Linked DNA regions of Homo sapiens. The protein of the gene in region 2 interacts with the protein of the main gene of each other region in a pairwise test. Each region holds a gene or a part of one and is shown on either strand. Other genes may lie near its edges. The genes, in order: GNPTAB and B3GALT2.

Evidence for each region.
Region 1: the proteins of B3GALT2 (region 2) and GNPTAB interact in binary tests that used the Homo sapiens proteins (3 or more experiments, as listed by UniProt).

The regions. Positions count from the first base shown.
Region 1 is NC_000012.12:101,824,036-101,827,960, forward strand, and holds part of GNPTAB (N-acetylglucosamine-1-phosphotransferase subunits alpha/beta precursor), read right to left. Parts: intron 1-3,925. UniProt on the Homo sapiens protein: Catalyzes the formation of mannose 6-phosphate (M6P) markers on high mannose type oligosaccharides in the Golgi apparatus.
Region 2 is NC_000001.11:193,184,583-193,188,507, reverse strand, and holds the start of B3GALT2 (beta-1,3-galactosyltransferase 2), read left to right. Parts: upstream 1-1,894; 5' UTR 1,895-2,489; intron 2,490-3,925. UniProt on the Homo sapiens protein: Beta-1,3-galactosyltransferase that transfers galactose from UDP-galactose to substrates with a terminal beta-N-acetylglucosamine (beta-GlcNAc) residue. Can also utilize substrates with a terminal galactose residue, albeit with lower efficiency.

The DNA.
Region 1 (3,925 bases), on a different chromosome or scaffold from region 2:
ATTATCTTCTGAAGCTCTCCTCTCAGTTCACGTGGTTCAGTTGAGACTGACAGCCCCACCCACTCCCCTATTTCTGGAGACGATCCCAGTGGTTAACAAGGGTATAACAAGGGCACTCATTCCTCTGGCTAGGCAGGCAGCCCTGGGTCTAGTTGGCACTAATGAGAAAGAAAAGCTATCTTTCTGCTGCAGTTACTGAACTGGTAGAACAGAAGGTGGGGTTGCCAGCAGCAATCCTTGTTCTCATATGAGGAGAGCTTGCTGAGAAGTAAACTAAAGAGGGGAAGGCAGAGGTGAGAAACAGGGACAAAAAGAGATTCCTGATGACATCATTTGAGCACCTCGATCCACTCCTGCCAGAAATTTCACCATATATATATATATATATATATATATATTTTCTTTTTTTTTTTTTTTTTTTTGGTTAACCTTTTTGTTTTGTTTTGTTTGAGACAGAGCCTCACTCTGTCGCCCAAGCTGGAGTGCAGTGGCACAATCTTGGCTCACTGCAACATCTGCCTCCAGGGTTCAAGCGATTCTCCTGCCTCAGCCTACCAAGTAGCTGGGACTACAGGCATGCACCACCACGCCCAGTTAATTTTTGTATTTTTTGTAGAGACAGGGTTTCACCATGTTGGCCAGGCTGCTTTCGAACTCGCCTTGGCCTCCCAAAGTGCTGGGATTACACACATGAGCCACCACACCTGGCCTCATCCTATATTTTTCAATTATCCCAGTTAACAAACTGGTTAATAATAAACTAGTTAATAAGCTAGGTCTGAGTTGGGAGTCTGTCACTTGCAACCTAGTGCTGTTAACTAATTCTAGCTGCAATGTTAAACCACTAGTAATTCAAAAAGAAAAAGCGATCACAAACTTCTCTGACATTACCAACTTTATGCTAAAATTACTCCCACCACTTCCTAAAATAATCTTTCCTTGTCTCTCTTCTGTTTAAACTCCTACTTGTCCATGAAGCCTCCCTAAAGCTCATGCCTCCTTGAAAAGGTGTCAGAACTGCCTCGAGGATGTTTCAACCCACAACATTCTTCTGTCTTCTGACTTTCTAAGCAATTGTTGTGTACTAACTCAGGCATTCAATTGCTTATTCCCCTGTGTTGTTATTCAGTCCTCATACATACATCTTGGCCTCATCTCAACTAAACAATAGCCAAAGGCATGAGCTATAATTATTTGTATCTCTGACAGCATTTTCCACTGTATATTCTGACGACAGCATCTTCCACTGTACAGTCTAACAACAGGTCTCAGATTTTTAGAGAAAGTTACCAGAGCAGGAATGACTCTCAGAGCATGAAAATGTTCAAGTTATATCAGATCAATCACATTTGAGAAATAAAAGGGAACTATAAACGCTACATCAGAGCAAAAAATTTACCTTTACTTGAAATAAATTTGAAAGGATGTCAGTTAAGATCAACCCAATTAATCAATCCATTCATTCATGCATCCATCAAGTATTTATTCAGCATCTACTGGGTACCAATCACTTTCTAGTGGCTAAGAATACAGCAGAGAATAAGACAAGGTCCCTACTTTGATAGTTAGCTGGACTATGTACCTCTCACAAACCCCCCAAAACAAAGAGACCCTTTAAAAAGGCTCTGTGTGGCCATTGGCATCTCTAGTATAAAATCCATTACAAGTCATGCTTCTCATGTGAAGTATCCAATAAATGTATATTCACAAAACATTAAAGCTAAAATGAGGCTCTTAGAAATATAGTCTCATAGTTTGTAAACATTTTTTAAACAATGAAACCTTTCCCAGAAAACAAGTCCACACGAAATAGATAAGAGGGGCTACTCCCAACCCACAAGGCAGCTGGGAGTAACTCAGTTTGGGAACCACTGAGGATCACAATTTGTGCTGCACCTAGGAGCAGGCCAGACGGTCCCCACTCTCAGGCCAGGCCTCTTTCTAACTCATCTGTTTGTTGCCTTTGGCCAAGAACACACTCAAATATATCTGTTTAATGAGTGAACTAATCAAATACAAAAATGATAACTAATTTCTTGAAATAAGGCCAGTATAAGACACTGGTCACCACTGAGGCTGAACATAACTTGAGCTAGACCCAGTTTTCAATTCTCCTTTTCACAGAAAATAACTCATTGATTCAAAATGGCAACAGAAAAGCAGGAAAGCAAAAGGGAGCAGAGAGGTCACGGAAAAATTACCATTCATTACGAGTAGATTCTATGTGAACCTATTTTGCTTCCTTATGCAAGTTAATTCTTGGATATTTGTTTCCATACTTAGTGCACAAAGGAAGTGATACGTTATACATACACCATACCCCCACACACAGATACACATACACATATACACACTGATCTACAACCCTCTATTAGTAATCCTGAAATCCAAAATGCTCTGAATACTGGAGGGGCTTTCAACTTTTTGTTTCTAATTTTTAATTTTTTTAATTTTATTTTTCTGATTTTTAATTTTTTTTTTTTTTCAAAACAGACCAGCCCTACCTAGAGATCTTTTTGTACCTTATTTGGCAACTAAACTTGACCTGCCCTGTACTTATTTGGTGGCAAAATGACTAAACTGACTTGAGGCTAGGTATAGTCTGTATTTTCCTGAGTGTGAAGAATTGTGGACTTGTATATAAATGGTTCGATTAAATAATGATGGCCCTGAAATAATAAATTTTAACTCAAAAACACGTTTTAAAATCTATACAGTAGCAACTAACAGAGAACAAATTATTTAAAAACCAGAAGTTTCTAAGCTAAAAAGGATCTTAAGAGCAGTCAATCTAGTAACACCATTTGTGGAGCTAACTAATTTACAATAGACTGATTACCTGCTACCTACAGTCCAAGGCAATGCATTTTTGTGACCACTAGTCCCCATTCTGAAGGCTCTCCCTGTGGGAGTTGTTTTTTTTTTTTTTTTTTTTTTTTTTTTGAGACCAGGTCTACCAGGCTGGAGTGCATGGCACAATCACAGGCACTGCACCTCAAACTCCTGGGCTCAAGCAACACTCCTGCCACAGCCTCCTGCCTCCTGAGCAGCTGGGACTACAGGCATGTGCCACCACACCTAGCTAACTTTTTTTATTTATGTATTTATTTTTGAGACAAGGTTTCACTCTGTCACCCAGGCTTAAGTGCAGTGGTGCAATCACGGCTCATGCAGCCTCAACCACCAGGGCTCAAGTGATCCTCCCACCCCAGTCTCCCAAGCAACTGGGACTACTCTACTTTTTTTGCAGAGATAGGGTTTCGCCATGTTGCCCAGGCTGGTCTCAAACTCCTGAGCTCAAGCAATTCTCCTGCCTCGGCCTGCCAAAGTGCTGGGATTACAGGTGTGAGCCACCACGCCCAGCCTTTATTTTTATTTTTTTTTGTAGAGACAGGGTCTCCTTTGTTTCCCAGGCTTGTCCAACTCCTGACTTCAAGCAATCCTCCAGCCTTAGTCTCCCAAAGTCCTGGGATTACAGGCATGAGCCACCTCACCCAGCTTGTTTTGTTTGATACTTCCTTCCCTCAATTCTACTTCTCGAAGTTTGGATGAATATAGAAAAGGCTTATCAAAATACAGCATCAAATACCTGTTATATTGAGAGGAGGAGACGATAACAAATTTACAGTTAACAATGATCTTCTGAGGGCCAGGCACAGTGGCTCGCACCTATAATCCCAGCATTTTGGGAGGCCAAGGCAGGCGGATCACCTAAGGTCCAGAGTTTGAGACCAGCCTGGCCAACATGGTGAAACCCTGTCTCTACTAAAAATACAAAAACTTAGTCTAGCGTGATGGCGGGTGCCTATAATCCCAGCTACTCCGGAGGGTGGGGCAGGGAAAATTACTTGAACCTGGAAGGTGGAGGTTGCAGTGAGCTGAGATCACCCCACTGCACTCCAGCGTGGGCAAGAGTGAGACTCTA
Region 2 (3,925 bases):
TTCATTTATTATTCTATTAATGATTCCTGGGTATGCTGCGCCAGTGTTCAGAAAAAAAAAAAATCCCACAATTTCTCTAGCAGTGCCATGTAATAAAAAGTTTAAGAACAGAGAATAATGATAGTACTAGATAGATTTAAAAAGAAAACAAAAACACAGAGGATAAGAATTTAGATAATCTTGCTTCAATTCCCAGCTTGGCCTCTATTCTTATCAGTATTTATCTGACATTTGGACTATTTTACAACTCCAGGCACTGGTTCTGCATCTTTTAAGTGGGTATTACAATAATAAAATTATTAGAAAAGAGCCATTTGCATAACAGCTCAAGTAAGCTTAGCACGCAATCTGATTTTCAGTAAATACTCCATAAATGGTCATTGTGGCTAGCTTCATAGTCAAATCCTATGTAAAGAATCACTGATAAATAAATACTGATCTACAAAAACACATCTGTACTTCTGGAAAATAAGTTATTTTAAGTAAGTTCTTAAGCATTACTCTGTTAACTAGTAAACTAATTTTAAAAACAAAACGGTAGTGAGTGAGAATTGCAGTATGGGTGGATATAGACTACAAGGAAGTTGGGTTTTAGTCCTCTCCTTCAAACTTAACTAGGAAAAGTCAAAGCTCAGTCTAGGCTTTAGGTTTCCTATTTATAAAATTCTTTTTTTTCTTTAACGATCCTTCTAACATTTCTAATACAGTGGGGTTCTTAAAACTACAAAGCACATTTCATCAGCAAAGCTCAAAAATATGTGGACAAAATTTTTTTTAATATCAGAGAAAACAAATTCATATTCATTTGAAATAGCATATATTAATGGTGGAGGCAGTGAGATGAAGAATATGTATATAACTGTTAACCTTTAGCTTAAGCTCCAAAACTATAACTTTCTAGGACTGAATTACTGTCCCTAGAGTCACAGAGGAAAAACTGATAATAAAGGCTTTTTACTACAACAAAAAATTTAAAAAAACCTTCCCTACTGCTCTGCAGTAAGAAAAGAAGGTGCCAGCCCCAGAAACTAACCATATTAGAAAAATCTCAGTGAGTGTGTAGTGTTAATAAAATCTGCCTCATGGCAAGTTATTAAATCTTTCTGAAACATTAGAATAAGTAAACATAATTAGTAAAATCTCATTACCCCCAGATCCTGTACAAGTGTGCTATATCTATTACATCATTTTACTGAATTCTACGATACATGTAATTTTAAAGGGAAGGAAAAATAAATAAAAAATAAATGACAACATTAAAAAGTGATTTAAAATAAAGTTTTCTGCCATCAAGAACACCAAAAACCACATAAGAGCAAAAAAGAAGTGGGCTGTATCACATCATGCATTAGTAAAGTAATCCAAGACAGCTTATTTATACAAACCCCAGAAAACGGGGGGGGGGATCTAAATTACAAAGATACATGGTTTCAATAGAAACCATAGGTCTTAACTACATATTAGTAAAAAATCAAGAGCAATTTGAAAGCAGAGAAAAAAAACTTCAAGAAGAGAATGCACTGAAGGGGTTAAATTACACCAACTTACACACAAAAGCTTATACTGCTTACACCCTACAAAAGCATGTAAGAAACATGAAAACCAACATCTAACACAGAAAACACTTAGAAAGCCTGTACTTAAGAATAAAGTTAAAAAAGGAAGTAAGCTGGAAAAAATAAAATCATAACCATTTCATAATCATCACATTTTCAAATTATTCACTCATCACTACACTTGCATTCAACATATATAATTTATCACATAAAAGCAAAATCTCTAAGCTTCTCCCTACCTTAGGTTTTTAGTCAAAATGAATGCAAACAATCACGTGGGATTCAGCCAAGCAGTGACGTTAAATTCTGCTCTGTCAGAGAGAGCATCTGTCAAGCCCACATTTAAACTGCTGCCTGCCTGTGCAGCAGCTGAGGAACCGTGGATTTCATATTATAGACTAAAACCCCATTAAAACTGCTCAAAATCCTTCCTGCAGCTGCCAGGCAACAACGAAAGAAGAGAGGTAAATCCTATTCTTTTCCAATACAACTGAAGCACTACATTTTAGCTCTGGCTGCTTTACATTGCAGCTCAGTGTTATTAGTAGAAATATGGATACTGAGACGAGAACACAGCACTGCATTGTCCAGCCAGGAAAATAGCAGATGTAAAAAGCTTCAATGCATCAACTGTCGGGAAGAGTCAACAGTGCTACAAGCAGAACGGGCAACTACAGCTCTTTTGTTTAACGAAAGAGAGAAAATGAAAGAAAGGGAAAATTTCAGAAGACTAGGACCCATATGAACAAGGAGGGTAACTCGAAGACAAGCAGACAGATGGACACTTTGGATACTGTGAAAAGCAATCGCAGGAGGCAGACTGTTGGGGGATGTGCGCATGTTCGATAGCATCTTTTTTGCTGAAGTGATGGCGTGCCAAAAGTATTTTCAGTGGGCATAATCCTCTTCACATAAATGGCCTGACCAAGGAAGGTATGTCAATATCTTGTGTATGATAGTCATTTAAATGTGTTACCTTTTTATAGCCCTGGAGGCACTAATACCTGATAAGCAAGTTCATACAGCTCACTGCCCTTGAAACTATGAAAAGGTTTCTTAATATCTGATTTTAAAATTTGTCATTGTTTAGAAGACAAGCTGTCACTGCTTTATGCAGCTAAATATGTAGCTTGGAGTAATTCTGGGTAATAGACATCAGAGGGAAAAGGCAAATAAGAAGAAGATGTGTTTAAAGGATTCCTTAAGAAATTAAACTTAAAAAAAAATCTGTAGCCCTTTACAAAAAACACAGCAATATTCTATCAAATTAGGTCAAACTGAATCCTTATCTAGTAAATTAAATGCTCTCTTAAAAATGGCTATCAAAAGACACAATGCAGTGAAATTTCATTAAATAGTAGCAAGGAAAACCTTAAGAGTTTTTTTTTCAAAGTCCTTTTAAAACAAAACCTTAATATGTAACAGCTTTTAGTAACAAAATCTTCCCCAACATCTCCCTAAATGAAGATAATGAACACAACCAAAGAGAGTATCAACAAATTTTAAATATTACCAAGCTACAAGAAGATACTAAAAGGAAAGCATTAACATAAGATCACATAAGGTAGTGTGAGTTTATGCATAACCCCACAATAGAGCCTCGTGTTATTATAGTGACCATGAATAGAACTTTAAACAAAGGGACATCAATAGTGGCTTTAAAAATTAACTATTTTAAATAGCTTACATTTTATGTAAAAGACTGATTCCAAATGATCAAATTTAACGTTGTCTCTGATTATCATTTCAGAAGTGAAATTCAAAAACATAATATGGAAATACTTTGATACAAAAATATCCACAAATGGCAATACAAGGTCAAAAAATTAAATATAAATGTAGCTACTATGCTTCCAGGCTATATTAATATGCAGTAATGAACTACCGCCACTATATGTGTGTGCAGGGCACAGATAAACCAAATAAACTATTTTAGCAACAATCATAGAACAGCAACTCAGGGCTCAAGAACTTAAAGATATTTCTAAAATTCTACAAATCTATCAAAGATCCTGATTTTTCCTCAATTTCACAACACAACTCAGTAATTATCTAATAATCACAAAAGGCAAACATTTTTTAAAAATATGTAAGTACTGCATTCCAAAATGAAGATTAAACAAGTTTACCAGACTCTATTACACCTCAACATCACTCTCACCCATGAATTTTTATTCTAATAAAGACTAATAATAAATAGTACTAAAAAATATGGTTGTAAAAATTTCAAGTCCCTCTTGGTACCTTAATCTCTCAATATTGAAGTCACCAATTAAGCAGTTTTATAAGCTATACATCTCAAAACAAAAGTGTAAGTTTTTCTATTAAACCATCACCAACAGACTAAAGAGATCAACACTTTTAAAAGC